2 separate regions of the Homo sapiens genome follow, and region 2 is linked to region 1. A link means that fine-mapping ties the variant in region 1 to the expression of a gene that starts in the linked region. Tissue or cell type: whole blood. Region 1 holds a variant in brackets; the other region holds the start of a gene. All regions are shown on one strand. Distances are between the middles of the regions.

What was found. PIP is the estimated chance that this variant, and not a neighbour inherited with it, causes the effect.
Region 2: it holds the start of LMAN2L, and the variant in region 1 is fine-mapped to the expression of LMAN2L in whole blood (TOPMed, PIP above 0.99).

Annotation. Positions count from the first base shown.
Region 1 is chr2:96,709,494-96,717,671 of GRCh38, reverse strand. It overlaps LMAN2L (lectin, mannose binding 2 like), which reads left to right. Exons shown (of 8, transcript NM_030805.4): 5 at 5,647-5,808; 6 at 5,902-6,016. Among named protein-coding and RNA genes, the nearest start is that of LMAN2L, 26 kb to the left of the region's middle. The variant A/C (reference allele first, on the strand shown) is at 3,180.
Region 2 is chr2:96,736,315-96,744,492 of GRCh38, reverse strand. It overlaps LMAN2L (lectin, mannose binding 2 like), which reads left to right and starts at 4,429. Exons shown (of 8, transcript NM_030805.4): 1 at 4,429-4,639; 2 at 6,426-6,544. The coding sequence starts at 4,453. RefSeq lists enhancers at 4,176-5,113, 5,114-6,053.

The DNA of each region.
Region 1 (8,178 bases):
GACGGGGTTTCTCCGTGTTGGTCAGGCTGGTCTCGAACTCCCGACCTCAGGTGATCCACCTGCCTCGGCCTCACAAAGTGCTGGGGTTACAGGTGTGAGCTACTGCGCCTGGCCGTCCTTTTTTTTTTTTTTTTTTTTCCGACACAGGGTTTGGTTTTGTCACCCAGGGTGGAGTGCAGTGGCACAATCACAGCTTAGTGTAGCCTCAACTTCTCAGGCTCAATAGAGCCTCCCATCTCAGCCTCCCAAGTAGCTGGGACTACAGGTGCATGCCACCAAGCCCAGCTATCTTTTTGTAGAGATGGGGTTTTGCCATGTTGCCCAGGTTGGTCTCAAACTCCTAGGGTCAAGCAATCCTCCCACCTTCATTTCCCAAAGTGCTGGGATTATAGGTGTGAGCCACCACACCTGGCCATCCTTTTCTTTAACCTCTTTCTTTGTGTGTGTGTGTCTGTGTGTATGTGTCTTGCGTGTATGTTTGTGCTTGTGTGTCTTTTTTTCTGAACTAAGAGTAAATTGCTCTCATGATGTCTCCTTAATCCTAAATACTTGTGTGTGTGTGTGTGTTTAAAAAAAAAAGTTATTTTATGTAGCCACAGCACAGTGATCAAAATCAGGAAGTTAACATTTGTAACAATACCATTATCTAATCTGCAGGCCTTATTCATATTTCACCTATTGTCCCAATATGTCCTTTATAATGAAAGAAAGTCCCAGATCCTGTGTTGTATTCAGTTGTTACTCTCCTTTAATCTGGAACTATTCTCAGCGTTCTCTTTGTGCTTCAGAGTACATACTGTTTAGACCTGATTTTAAAAAAATAATACATATGAAACATTTTTCCATATTGAGAGATATTGAAAGCAGTGTATCCCAGTGATTGAGTCAGGGCTCTGGAGCCAGAATACTTGGTTTCAAATCCTGATTTCACTACTTAATGCCTGTGTTATCCTGGACAAGTTTTTTACCTGTGAAATGAGGAGTACTGATACTACCTCATAGGATTGTGAGAATTAAATGCAGAAGGGCTCATTACTGAGTTCAGTGCCTGGCACAGACTAAGTGCTCAATAAACACCAGCTATTATTCACACCATTCAGTGGATTCCTAAGGGACATTTTGCAAACATCTTAGTTCTGTTCTCTCTTCCTCTCCCCTCCTTCACTTCTTCACATCTGGGTTCCCAAAAGCAAATGGTCAGCTTACTAGACAATGGTATGGTTTGAGATGGAAACACTGCTCTAAAAGAGTGGCTCCTAGATGCCAGTGTATGAACTCCAGTTGTGTGGTAACAGAGTTTTCACTGGTGCAAGAATCATAATAATGAAGTTCTTTTTCTTAAGTGCTAAATGTATTCAGTTGTTTCATTATGAAATTACATTGTTCTCTCTCATCTTTTGGTGTTAAAGTGTCCCTTTGTAAAATGATGTTTATTATAGATGATTGTTCTGTCATTATTGTATTTTAATATTTTTAGTAGGCAATAAAAAGAAGCCAAATCTAATACTCTCCAAAATATTTTTGGAAATATTAATGGTTGATCACAGCCAGTGGTCTGGGAATTCGTGCTTTAGAAGATGTATGTTTGGCTTTGTGTTTATATATATATGAGTACCTGTGAACGATATTTGTATCTAGAAATACACTAGTCACTGATTGAATGTTTATTGACTCCCTCCTGAACACCAAGACATTGTACTAAATGCTTCGCATATCTCATTTCATCTTCATAATGAACCCTGTGAGCTTTGTATTGTTCTGTTTACAGTGAGGAAATAGAATCTCAAAGAGGTGATGTAATCCACCGAAGGGTTACACAGCTATAAGTGACATAACTGCAGTTAGAACTCAGGTCTCCCTAATTACAGAGGCCATTTGGAATTTTAGCCTAGAATCCATAAATCCACAAGCTAATGGGTGTCTTTTCCATCGAAATATGCTGAAGATACAGTTATCCCGTAGAGGTCTTCAAAAAACACTTTTTTAAAAGTAGTCTTGTAGTACAAAAAGTTGAAAACATTTCTCCACCCTTTAAACAACAGTCCTTTGGATGATAAAACAGGTGAGAGTTTCTCCTTTCTGGTGACTCTTAAATTAGGAATAAAACTACCACCTTGCCTGAACCAGTGTGATTCTTCAATCTTTGGTTCTAACTTACAGAGTGCTTTCTAGGGGAAAAACAAAATTGCTCCTGTGTGAAATTAGTGGTTATCCAAGAAATACTTCCAGGAACTCTTGACTAGGCGTAGAAAATAAGATGGCATTTAGTGACTTACACTAATGTGAGGTTAAAAGTTGAAGGCCAACTCGTGTTGCCGAAGTAGACAGATTCTCTGTAGTTGCAAAGCTGTGAGGCTCCCTGTCTGGTGCAGCGTTTCTTCAATTTGGCTGCACATCACAGCCTTCTGTGGTGCTTTTTAAAAATACATAATCCTGGCTGGGTGCGGTGGCTCACGCCTGTAATCCCAGCACTTTGGGAGGCCAAGACGGGCAGATCACGAGATCAGGAGTTCGAGACCAGCCTGACCAACATGGTGAAACCCCATCTCTACTAAAAATACAAAAATTAGCTGGGCATGGTGGCGAGCGCCTGTAATCCCACCTACTCATAAGGCTGAGGCAGGAGAATTGCTTGAACCCAGGAGGTGGAGGTTGCAGTGAGCCAAGATTTCGCCACTGCACTCCAGCCTGGGTGACAGAGTGAGACTCCATCTCAAAAAAACAAACAAAAAACAATCCTGCACCCCACTCTAGCCATACGAATGAGACTCTTTGACTGAGGGACCCATGTATACGTGCAGTTAACAAGCTCCTTCAGGTGCTCCCAAGGTCCAGCATGCCTCTGGCTGTTACCTGGAACTGGGTCCACACCAGCCTTGGGAAGAGTAAGGCACCCTTAGGCTAAGGATTGCTGTCTCTTTATTATTTGTTTATTTTCTAAGCAAGCTAACATAGGAGATTGCTATCTCTTTAAAGTTGCAACTTAAACTTCTAATCAGGGTTACTAGAGGTGATGAGTGAAGGAAGCCTTGGGCTCATCAGAGCTCCACAGGGCATTTTTAATCCCTTTTTCTTAATTGTCACTGAAATTATGAGCATACTCTCAGATGCCAGTTTCTGTAAACTGCTTGATAACATGCTCACCATTTCCTTGTTCTAAATGGTAGTTGTTGAAGATT[A/C]ACTTCATGCCAGTTTAATCATCCACGGATTGATGTCATGCCTTTCTGTGTCCTGTATGAATTCTGCCAGTGGTGTTAAGAGGAGGACGGCAGGGGATCTGCACTGCAGCCTCGGACTCCTGGCTGTGGCCCATGGAGCCCAGTGCCGTGGGTGCTGCCTTGCCTCATGGCAGCCTCTTCTCACAAGCTGTGATTCTGACTGATCTGTTTCCAGTTCCTTGAATGTGCCACCCTCATGCTTCTTGTGCCCTCAGATCTTTTGGTGGACTCCCTCTAATTACTTGAGTCTCAGCTCAGATATTGCCTCCTCAGGGAGAGGTTCCCTTGCCCATCCCTTGTATTACCTATTTTATTTTCCTTATAGCATTTTTCACTATCTGAAATAATTTTATTTGCTTCTTTGTTGTTTGTTTCTTCCACTCTGATCTTAATTCCATTCCTGTCTGTCTTGTTTCTCTTTGGACCCTCAGCATCTGGAACAGTACCTGGCTTGTAGTAGGTGTTCACCGTATTAAAGGAGTGAAGGGTTTGAGTTCTGTACCCTCGCCTACCTGTCCCACAGGGCAGAGCTGAGCTGAGCTTGTGTAGGTACCTCTTGTCGCTAATGGCTTAGAACTGCAGCTGTTTGCTGGAGCAGAGCTTAATACCCTCACGCCTGATGATTTTCTAAATCTGTCATTCTGCAATGCCTCCATGGAGCTTCTTCCTTGCCTATGTGTGGTAGGTTAGAATGACAATAGTTATTTGGGAATATATGACCATAAGGCTCAGTTAGAGGGTAAGTGATCCCTTTGGATTAGAGTTAGTTTCATAGTCTCTCAAGTGGCAAGATTTTGGTCTTCTGGGCAGGAGCTGTTTCCTGAGATCCTGGATAGTAAAGGATGTCTTGAATTTGGAAGAATTTAGCCCTGTTGTCTCCTCTTTCCCCTTGCTATAGAAATACAGTAGGCTGGGTACAGACAAACTTGAGACTGACTCCCAGAGACATAAGTGCGGCGTGCCTGGACAGCGTACTGCTATGTGTTTTATAAAGTGCCTTCCAAAAGCTTCAGGACCCTCTATGGGTTAGAGCGGTCTTCCTAGGGGACCCCTTTGAGAATCTGATATAGTAACAGACCCTCTCCTCAGAAAAATGTACAAGCACCCGTGCATATGGTTTTGCCTATCATCTTGAGGGTGCAAAGACTTCACGGATGCCCTTCAGGGACCCTAAAATTCTGTTTGGGGATTTAAGTTGGTTTGTTCATCCATCACAGCTGGGTCATAGCTCTTCTGTGGCTGTGTCTTTCTGACTTGGTCTCCTGTCTTCTGTGCCCTCTCTTGTTTTTATCATAACCTGCTGGACCCTCTCAGGCCCAGAAGAGGCGATATTCTCCAGGAGTCCAGGTACTCAGTTCTTGGCTCATCATGAGCATCCCTCATTCCCATGTGTCCATCCAACATTTGTTGCTGTTTCAAGTCCATGTGGTTGTCTCAGGAGTCCCCGGTCTCTGGTCTCGACTGCATCTCCATCTTGCATGTTAACCATTTGGGACAAAGGGACAAATACTCCCCAAAGGAGTGGCATGCCTCATGTTACCCCTTCACCACCTCACTACCCTGCCTTTTTGCACTGCCTTGGCATTGGGCTTGTTCTGGAATGATTAGTTCGCCATTTCTAAGGAAGAATTGCTCCTACAACTCTACTGGGGAGAGAGGGCCCCTGAAATAGATGGGAAAATGAGTGGCTTATGGGAAAACTTGCAATTTTCTCCCTGTTAAGGGAGAACCTTGCCCTCTTATTATTATTCGGAGAAGTTACGTGTGGAGGAGGCTTAAGTGGGCTGGAAAGTCTTTTGACTAAGGACAGTCATTGTGGCTGGCTGAGCCCATCCAGCAACCCCGTTCCATGTTCTGAGTTCTAATCCATTTAGCCTTATATGCTTATAGAATTTTAGAATTGAAAAGAGCTATCCTGAATGGAAAGATTCCCCTGCTCAAACAGGTATTTTCAGAATACCCGCTGTGTGCAGAACCATGGTTGGGAGGAGATGGGGCTGAAGTTTAGACATATGAAGACGTGATGAATGAATTTTTTCTTCAAGAAGCTTATGTGGCAGTTGGGGAGATAGGTACATATACACGAAAAGGAAACCCCTGGTATTAGGCGGCACATAAGTGCCAAATGGTGACCTTGGGGCATTCAAGTCAGACTCCAGCGTCTTAGGAGGACCACTTCAGGCCCACCCCAGTTCAGGAGCCAAGAGAATTACTGAAGGCAAATACCAAGTGTAGTCGCTTCCTGGGCCCATTTCCCTTGAGAGACCATCTGAATGTGGGCTCTCAGGGGCTGCTGACAATGAGGTCGAGTGGCTGCCTATTCTGCTGTAAGGGGCTCAACTTGTATGTGCTGAATTCCTGTTGCTGTTTGTACAGGCGTTCCTATGTGCTCTTCCTTAGTGTCTGCTTCCCCCTCTCTGCTTTCCAGCGGGTATTCCCCTACATCTCAGCCATGGTGAACAACGGCTCCCTCAGCTATGATCATGAGCGGGATGGGCGGCCTACAGAGCTGGGAGGCTGCACAGCCATTGTCCGCAATCTTCATTACGACACCTTCCTGGTGATTCGCTACGTCAAGAGGCATTTGACGGTGAGAGTCCTTGTCCTGGACCAGATGGTGGTGTGGGCTGTGTCGCTCTTGCTCCCATGGCCTGACCCTGATTTATCTCTCTTTTTATTCTAGATAATGATGGATATTGATGGCAAGCATGAGTGGAGGGACTGCATTGAAGTGCCCGGAGTCCGCCTGCCCCGCGGCTACTACTTCGGCACCTCCTCCATCACTGGGGATCTCTCAGGTACTGCCACGCGCACTCTTGGTTTGCCCTGACTGAGGCCTCTTCTCAATACCCACACTTCATTGAGGCCTCTCACAGGGGAGAGCCAGAGGAGCGGTGCTCTGGAAGGAGGTGCCTCAAGACTGCTTCTCCTTCTGCATTCTTATATCCACATTCCTTAAAAACCCACGCCAGGCTTTCCTAGTACAGTTGTCACTAGAAGATGGTTGGTGCTAATAGAAAGCAGTGTTTGTCCCTTCATTAAGCTGGCTCTTCTAGCCTGTATCGTGAGTTCCTTGCTTTCTGATTTCTGCTGTCAGGCTCCTCTCCTTCCAACCACTAATGTTCCCCGTTCCCCTTCCTTAACAAAGCTTTTCCTTGACTTTGCCGTCCCTCTTCTGACCCCAGACTCTCCTTTTGCTGAGACTTTTGAATGTGTTGTGTGTACAGATCCTTTTGTTTCCTAGCTGTCCACCTCCTTAACATGCTGACTCAGACCTGTGCTCTATCTTGCTAGTACACTAACACCATTCTCATGAAAGGTCATTCTGTTTCCTTGCCATATTCAGTACTCTATTCTCGTTCTCACCCTTTGTCCTCCTCAGCTCATTTAACCCATTACCCTGAAACTCTTGCCTTCTTGACTTATGTGACATTAACAGCACCTGGTTCTTTTACTTTTCCATCTCCTCTTGTTTCTTTTTCTACTTATGCCTGATTCGTAGCTTCTCGTTTATACACTTACTCTCTTTGCTTGAACCCCAATCATAACATCTTTTGGGAAGAGAAAAGGAACTGAACTTCTGTTTCTTTTGATTAATATAATTTGTTCTGGATAAAGCTAGTTTGGAATAGAAGTTTCTTGTGGCAAAATAGAAAGGCAGATACCCATCTGAAAAAGCCGACAGCTAGTGAGCTCCAGCCATTGTAGCTAAAAGGAAATGTCAGCTCAGTGAGGCTAAATCTTCCAGTTTTTCAAGAGCAGTTGGAATTCTGGATTTTTTTTTATATATATATATGGAGTCTCGCTCTGTCGCCAGGCTGGGGTGCAGTGGCGCCATGTCAGCTCACTGCAACCTCCACCTCCTGTATTCAAGCGATTCTCCTGCCTCAGCCTCCCAAGTAGCTGGGACTACAGGCGCGCCACCACGCCCAGCTAATTTTTGTATTTTTAGTAGAAACGGGGTTTCACCATGTTGGCCAGGATGGTCTCCATCTCGACCTTGTGATCCGCCCGCCTTGGCCTCCGAAAGTGCTGGGATTACAGGCATGAGCCACTGAGCCCAGCCTGGATAATCTGGATTTTTAAAATGCAATCTGCTGATCTTTAAAACTCTGGCATCTGATTTTTTTAAAATCAACTTTACTGAGGTGTGCTTTCCATACAACAGAAGAATACAGTTTGAAGAGTTTTGACAAATATTTACACCTATGTAGTCACCATCACAATTAAGATATGAATGTTTCCATCACCTGCCAAAAGCCTTATTATCCCCCTTTGCAGTATTCCTCCCCTTCTTGGATTCCAGGCAACCATTGATCTGCTTTCTGTCATGCAGAGAGATTAGTTTTGGCAATTAGGTTCTAAGTACCGAGCAGGCCAGACCTGTGGGAAAAATTTAGTCTCGGCAGGGGGATAGGAGGCATAGGCTGGAGATCTTTGCTATATAATCTCATTATATGACTACACATTTTCCTTTGAGCTTACAGGTTTCTGGGTTAACCTCCTGACGTACTTTTTAATGGAAAGTCCCCAACTGTCAGAAATGGCAGGGGAGAATAATTTTTTGTTTAGTCTAAGTTTTTTGCCCTAGGTCTTTAGTGAGAATACCCAAGTTAGTAAGTCTGTGTTCTCTGCCCATAGGGTATCCCTAAATGCAAGTTGTTTCTTTCTTTTGAGGTCTTTCTTGTTGCCATCCTCTTACTTGTTGTATAGTAGGTTGTTGAAAACTGCTGAGAAAGTTAGGATGTTTCCCAGCCGTTCCAGGCTTTAATGCCCTGCATTGCATGAGGAGCATTGCCCTGGCCTTTTATCCTGTCCCATGGTTTAAACTGAGCTCTGACAGTTAACATTTTTCCAACAGAAGATGAATCCAGTTTTTCACTACCTGGGAATCTGCTAAAGATTCTAGCAGTCCAAGCAGCTGTGGATGCTCTCCTTATAAATGACCAGAAATCCAGGC
Region 2 (8,178 bases), 27 kb before region 1:
GGCTGGAGTGCAATGGCGTGATCTCGGCTCACTGCAACCTCCGCCTCCTGGGTTCAAGCAATTCTCCTGCCTCAGCCTTCCAAGTAGCTGGGATTACAGGCACCATGCCTGGCTAATTTTTGTATTTTTAGTAGAGACAGGGTTTCACCATGTTGGCCAGGCTGGTCTCGAACTCCTGACCTCAAATGATTCCGCCCTCCACCCCCACCTCGGCCTCCCAAAGTGCTGGGATTGCAGGTGTGAGCCACCGAGCCCCGCCTGTCCTTCCTTTCCTTTTTTTTTTCTTTTGAGATGGAGTCTCACTCTGTTGCTCAGGCTCGAGTGCAGTGGCATGATCTTGGCTCACTGCAACCTCTTCCTCCTGGGTTCAAGCGATTCTCCTGCCTCAACCTCCCGAGTGGCTGGGACTACAGGTGTGCACTACCACGCTTGGCTAATTTTTGTATTTCTAGTTGAGATGGGGTTTCACTATATTGGCCAGGCTGGTCTCGAACTCCTGACCTCATGATCCACCCGCCTCAGCCTCCCAAAGTACTGGGATTACAGGTATGAGCCACCGGGCCTGGCTCTTCCTTTTCTTTGATACATTCCTCATTAATAAGCATTCTTCCTATTGCAACAGTCTGAACAAAATGATTTGATTTATAGTCCAGTGCATCTCACCTTTCACACCCTTCTCCTTTATTCCCCTTTTCCTCATCACACAGAATTTTACAATGAGATTTCTGCTTGTGTCAATCTATCAGAAATTCAGCTGACAGGGTGCATGACACTGCGAATGAATTTAATGCCTTTGAACTGAACACACATGGTCCTGACTTAATGATGGTTTGACTTAGGATTTTTAGACTTTAGGATGGGTTTAGTTTTTCTGTAGGTAACCCCATTGTAAGTTGAGGACCATCTGTACTTAAAAATTATACGCTGTATTTTATGTATTTTTTTTCTTTTTTTTTTTTGAGACAGAGTTTCACTCTTGTTGCCTAGGCTGGAGTGCAGTGGCGCGATCTTGGCTCACCGCAACCTCCACTTCCCAGGTTCAAGCGATTCTCCTGCCTCAGCCTCCCAACTAGCTGGGATTACAGGCATGCGCCACCACACCCGGCTAATTTTGTATTTTTAGTAGAGACGGGGTTTCTTCATGTTGGTCAGGCTGGTCTCGAACTCCCGACCTCAGATGAGCCACCCACCTCGGCCTCCCAAAGTGCTGGGATTACAGGTGTGAGCCACCGCGCCCGGCCTTTATGTGCATTTTACTACAATTAAAAATTCATCTTGCAGAGAAATGCAATGGAAATAATTTATTCAAAACAATTAGAACCCCTACTATGTGCTGGGTGATAGGTTGGGGTTGGGGAAATGGGTGGGGCCTGAGTTAGGAAATGAGTAAGACCTGCTTCCTGTGGTCCTGGAGCTCCCAGCCTTGCTGCGGAGACAAACCCATAATCTGTTAATTGAGCTCCATAATTCCAGGTGACACACATTACAGTACACATGCGTAGCGCCTGATTTCAGTCAGGATGCAAAGGGCTTTGAATGCTACACTAAGGACTTTGGATTTTGGTAATTGGGAGTTATGAATGGTTTTAAAGCCAGTGTATGACACGAACAGATTCATTGCAATTCCTAAAGTCTTAGCACCAGACATTTGACATTGTAGGGTGTCAAAGACTGATGGCAGTGACAGGCTGGGCACCATGGCTCACACCTGTAATCTCAGCACTTTGAGAGATGAGGTGGGAGGATCGCTTAAGGCCAGAAGTTCAAAACCAGCCTGGGCAACATAGAGACCCCCATCTTTAGAAAAAATTTTAAAAATTAGCTGAGGCTCACCCAGCAGTTTGAGACTGTAGTGAGCTATGATCACAGTACTGCACCCCAGCCTGATGGATTGAGACCCCATTTCTTCTTTTTTTTGTTTTTTTGAGACGGATCTGCTGCTCAGGCTGGAGTATGGTGGTGGGATCTTCTTGACTCACTGCAACCTCTACCTCCTGGGTTCAAGTGATTCTCCTGCCTCAGCCTTCCAAGTATCTGGGATTACAGGCACCTGCCACCACGCCCATTTAATTTTTGTATATATATGTATATATATATTTTTCGAGACGAAGTCTCACTGTGTTGCCCAGGCTGGAGTGCTGTGGTGCGGTCTCGGCTCACTGCAACCTCCGCCTTCTGGGTTCAAGTGATTCTCCTGCCTCAGCCTCCTGAGTAGCTGGGACTACAGGCGTGTGCCACCACGGCTGGCTAATTTTTTGTATTTTTAGTAGAGATGGGGTTTCACCATGTTGGCCAGGATGGTCTTGAACTCCTGACCTCAGGTGATCCGCCTGCCTCCCAAAGTGCTGGGATTACAGGCCTGAGCCACCGTGCCCAGCCAAGACCCCATCTCTTTAAAAAAAATAGCTGTGACAGCTTTAATTTTAAAAAGTTGATCCCCTGTAAAGTAGGCTCATAATTATGTTTATCTTATTAAATATATTCATGCTCAGGAAAGCAAGAGAGTGTTAACTTTGGTTAAGTCTATTGGGAAGACATAAACACAGATCTGTCAATTGCTCTATATGAGATGTGCATGGAACACTTTGAGAGCTCAGACAGGAGAATCTACCCTGCCTGAGAGGTTTGAGAAGGACCTCCAGAAGGAAGTGGACTGCAGAAAAAAAAAAGAGGGAAGGGAAGCTGGAGCATAAAGATGGAGGAAAAGAGTCATGGGCAATAAGGCCAGGGCCAGATGGCAGGGGGCTTTGTGTGCCAAATTGAGGGGCTTGAATCTCCTCCCCACAGGTGATGGTGAGCCATCAAAGGCCCGGTTAATAAGAATGATGATGATGAAATAGCGCTTATGGCTTGGTGCGGTGGCTTACACCTCTAATCCCAGCACTTTGGGAGGCTGAGGAGAGAGGATCACTGAAGTCTAGAAGTATGAGACAAATCTGGGCAACTTAGTGAGACCTCCCCCACAACCCCATAGCTACAAAAAATAAAAATTAGCAAGGTGAGGTGGCACACACCTGTAGTCCCAGCTACTTGAGAGGCTGAAGTGGGAAGATCCCTTGAGTCCAGGAGGTTGAGGCTGTGGTCATGCCACTGCACTCCAGCCTGGGTGACAGAGAGAGACCCTGTCTCAAAAACAAAAACAAAAACAAAAACAAAAAAAAAAAGAAAAGAAAAAAGAAAGAAATAGTGCTTACTACACGCAAGGCACTGTTCTAAGAGGTTTACCAATATTGACTCATTTAACCCTGACACTTACCATGGTTAGATAGTTTGGATCACTTTAGTGGCTACGTGGAGACCAGTCTGGACACATGTTGTGGTGCCGGATAAAGACGAAGGGATGTGCCTGTAGTCCCAGTAACTCAGGAGGCTAAGGTGGCAGGATCACTTCAGCCAGGGAGGGAGAGGCTGGAGCTGAGATTGTGCCACTGCACTCCAGCCTGGGCAACAGAGCAAGACCTTGTCTCTCTTTTTTTTTTTTTTTTTGAGATGGAGTTTTGCTCTATGTGGCCCAGGCTGGAGTGCAATGGCTTGGTCTCGGCTCACTGCAACCTCTGCCTCCCAGGTTCAAGCGATTCTCCTGCCTCAGCCTCCCAGTAGCTGGGATTACAGGCACGTGCCACCACGCCTGGCTAATTTTTTTTTTTATTTTTAATAGAGACGGGGTTTCTCCACCTTGGTCAGGCTGGTCTCGAACTCCCAACCTCAGGTGATCCGCCTGCCTCGGCCTCCCAAAGTGCTGGGATTACAGGCGTGAGCCACCGCGCCTGGCCAAGACCTCGTCTCAAACCAAAAAGAAAAAAAAGAGGAAGGGAGGAAAGGAGGTGATGGCTTTTAGAATTAATTAATTTGTGTGCTTTCAGTTCTTTTATATCTGTAGGTTGCTTGATGGCCCAGACTATCACGGCAAAGGAGTCATTTGCATTTGAAGAGAATGTGTCTTCCGCAGTTGTTAGGTGGAGTTTCTATAAATATCATCAGGTCAAGTTAGTTGGTAGTGCTGTTCAAGTCTTTTATAAATTGATAGTTTTCCAGCTATTTTACGGATTTGTCTATTTCTCCTTTCACTGCTATATCTTCCAAATTGATTCAGAGAGCTGCAGTCAGGAGCGTACTATTGCAGAGAGGATAGAATGTTTGGGACCAGAAGAAACGTTTTATCTCTTTAAATTTACTCTCGTACGCAGAAAACAAAATACAAATAAACTACGTATCCCAGCAAGCCTAGTGGAACTCAGGGCAAATGCAAATAAGGGGGGGGGCTGGGCATTCGGCTACGCCCCTTTTCTGGGTTGGCAAGGCAACTGATACAGAAGCCAGCCAATCGGTGATATAGTCACCTGCAGGGGCGGGGGCTTGACGAAAGCCAATAGGACGCAGGGCAGATGGCTCTTCGGGCCAATGGGTTGGGCGACGGGGCGGGCTTTTGATGAAGGGTCGTTGGTGGGAAAGATGGCGGCGACTCTGGGACCCCTTGGGTCGTGGCAGCAGTGGCGGCGATGTTTGTCGGCTCGGGATGGGTCCAGGATGTTACTCCTTCTTCTTTTGTTGGGGTCTGGGCAGGGGCCACAGCAAGTCGGGGCGGGTCAAACGTTCGAGTACTTGAAACGGGAGCACTCGCTGTCGAAGCCCTACCAGGGTGAGGCGCCCAGGGTGAGGTGGTCGTGCAGTGGGGCGGGCTTCGGGACTTGATTTCAGGGGTAGAGGCGGGGGCGGCGAAGGGCTTCGTGGCCCGGAGGAAACTGCTGGCGGTGGTGGGGCCCACGGAGACTCCCTCCGCGTTTGGGAGCCACAGGTCTGAAAGGCAGGAGTTAGGTGTGCCTGCCAAGCTCTGGAAGTTTCCAGTAGGTAAAGGCAGGGCTGTCGGGTGCCACTAGTACTAGGCCTGGAGTTAGACAGGAGGAGTTTGGGAAGGGGAGAGAATTGAGAATGGTGAGGAGTGATTGAGGGCTACTAGCAATGAGCCAGTCTCCAGATGGACCTGTGGATGTGCTAGAAATAAAGCAGGAGGAAGAACTGGGGTAGAACTTGAACGAAATGAGAAGATGATAAATTTATGTTGCTGGGTAGAACCACCTTCTCTTCTCCAGCCTAGGGGCCCTGTTGGTGAAAGAGGTTAGGGTTCACAGAACTCTAAGCACAGCTTATCAGCCAGAAAATTAATGCAGTTAGCCACAAAACGATGACAAACCAGTGCAGATGGCTTAACTAACACAAGTCTTTCCCCACTAAGGCGTAGGTAGTGGGACAGAAAACAATTCAAAGTGCAAGAGTATACTCTACTACTAAGGGTAATCATTTATTCACTTACATGCCTGGAGTGCCTCTGTGCTGTCTCTTTGCTAATGCTTATGGGTTTGCAGACACAAAGTTTTCATTCTTAAAGAAGTTTATAGGTGAGGGTACAGGGAGTAGCTTCACACTTTAAGGATTGTTTAAAGAAAGAATGTGACGGCTGGGGCGGTGGCTCACGCCTGTAATCTCCGCACTTTGGGAGGCCGAGGTGGGCGGATCACGAGGTCAGGAGATTGAGACCATCCTAGCTAACACGGTGAAACCCCATCTCTGCTGAAAATACAAAAAAATTAGCCAGGTGTGGTGGCGGGCGCCTGTAGTCCCAGCTACTCAGGAGGCTGAGGCAGGAGAATGGCGTGAACCCGGGAGGCAGAGCTTACAGTGAGCCGAGGTCATGCCACTGCACTTCAGCCTGGGCAACAGAGCGAGACTCCATCTCAAAGAAAAAAAAAAAAGGAAGAATGTGACTAAGCCCCGGAGGCCTGAGGGTCAAACTCTTTTTATTTATATTTATATATTTTTAGAGACAAGGTCTTGTTCCGTTGCCTAGGCTGGAGTGCAGTGGCACAATCATGGCTCATGCAGTTTCAATCTCCTGGGCTCAAGCGATGCTCCCAACTCAGCCTCCTGAGTAGCTAGGACTATGGACAAGGACTACCACACCTGGCTAATTTTTTTTTTGGTAAAGACAGGGTCTTTCTATGTTGCCCAGGCTGGTCTCAAATTGCTGACCTCAAGATGCCCTCCCTCCACATCATCTCAAAGTGTGGGGATTACATGGGTGAGCCACTGCACCTGGCCTGTCAAACTCTTTTTGATATAACTCAGGAAAATTTTTTTCTTTTACGATGCTGAAGTTTACTCACATATAAAACGGGAAGAATGGATGTGAGCTATGGTTACTGTAACATGCATAAAGTGAGAGTTCTGATGTGCTTTGGGGTCCTTACCTGATAAAGGCCTTGTGAAAGCTGTAGAGATGGTAAGATTCATGACTGAGAGAAGATAGGAGATTGAGTGACATTAAAGGGGGAAAAAGATGATGGCTCAGCTTTCAGAGGCTCTGTGGTGGCTGCTTTCTGAATGGATTGGTGTTGAAAAGTATGAACTGATCTACTTCCTTCCTGTAGGTGTGGGCACAGGCAGTTCCTCACTGTGGAATCTGATGGGCAATGCCATGGTGATGACCCAGTATATCCGCCTTACCCCAGATATGCAAAGTAAACAGGGTGCCTTGTGGAACCGGGTGGTAAGAATCTTTCTCCCTCCTGTGTTGGTGACCCAGAAAGGCCTAAAAAGTTCAGCAGTGGCATACTGATTTAATTTTACTGTCTATCCCCCTGGTATTCTATCTTCTGTGGATATCAAGGATCTTTATTTTTGAGATTATTCTGACCTTGATAATAAATAAATCAGGTATTTAGGAAAATGCTCTCTATTTAATTATAGCAAATAATTCATTTTTTTTTCCTGAAATGTCGTTAATTCCTGATTGGCCCAATAGTACTACTTCTTAGGGTTTAATAATAACTTAACTCCTGCTTAACCACTTTGTAAGAAGATTATAAGAAGACCAGAGTGCAGTGGCACAATCATAGCTCACTGCAGCCTCAAACTCCTGGGCTTAAGGGCTCCTCCTGCCTCAGCCTCCTGAGTAGCTGAGACTACAGGCATGTGCCACTGCACCTGGCTAATTTTTAAAACGTTTTTTGTAGAGATGGGGTCTTGCTATGTTGCCCAGGCTGGTCTCAAACTCTTGGTCTCAAACAATCCTCCTGCCTTGGCCTCCCAAAGGTCAGGGATTATAGGTGTGAGCCACCGGTCCTGGTTGAGAGTACTCTTAAATTGATCCCAAACCTTATCCCAGCATCCCCATCTTGTTATTTCAATTTGAAGAGTCTGATATAAAATTTTATTTTCATGTGAAAGCCACTCTGAGCTGTTGGTCATTTTATTTGTCCTTCTCTGGACCTTTTCTAGCTGCATTGTCTTCCTTGAGGTATGGCGACAAGAAGTGAATGCAGTATTCCTGGTGTGGCTGCACTGTGATTTTGTACAAGTGTAAGATGATGCTTTCTTTTCTGTTTCCAGGGCTTTCTAAATCTTTTACGACCAGTTTACTTTTGGGCATGACTCTGGCATCCTTTGATACTTTCTCTGGAATTCTCTTAAACTAAGAACTTACTTTTTTACGTGGCTTTTCTCATTAGTTGTAGATAAGCGAATCTCAGAAAAGAGAACGATTTCTTTTCCCTGTTCAGGAGGGCAAGAGAAATTTCTACATTAGCTATCTGCACAAACTGGCCCCTTAACCTAGATCATAGTGCCGAGCTCATTTTTGGACAGAGTACAGAGCATTGTGTTTTCGTAGCAGAGATAAAGGACAGTTGAAAGACTGGGATTCTCGGTCCAGCTCTGTCACAGTCCTCCTGTGAGCCCTAGGCAGATTATTTAACTTCTTAGTTCTGTTTCTCTATCTGATAAATGAGCTTCAGAATACCTGTTTTACTTGCCCACTGGGGTTGTCGTGAGAATAAAATAGGACAATAGACATGAAAAGACTGTGGCAAGTTAAAATGGTTATAGAAATATGTGTTATGTTATTACACTTCTACAGGTTTGTTGATGGGGCTCTTGTGGGTTACCGGATGATTATGTTCAAGGCTTGATACTCTGCTGCTGTCTTGCTGGCTGTCTGTCTCTACATAACTTGTAGCAGCAGTTCTAGTATAGCCTCTAGTTCTTCCCTTTTTCGACTTCTGATACCTGTATTCGCTGTTATCTGGCTATCACCATGACTATGGGCTTGTTTCTGAGTTATTTGAATAGGATGCATTTGTTTCAGCAGTGGTTCTCAAATTTGGCTATCCATTGGAATCAATG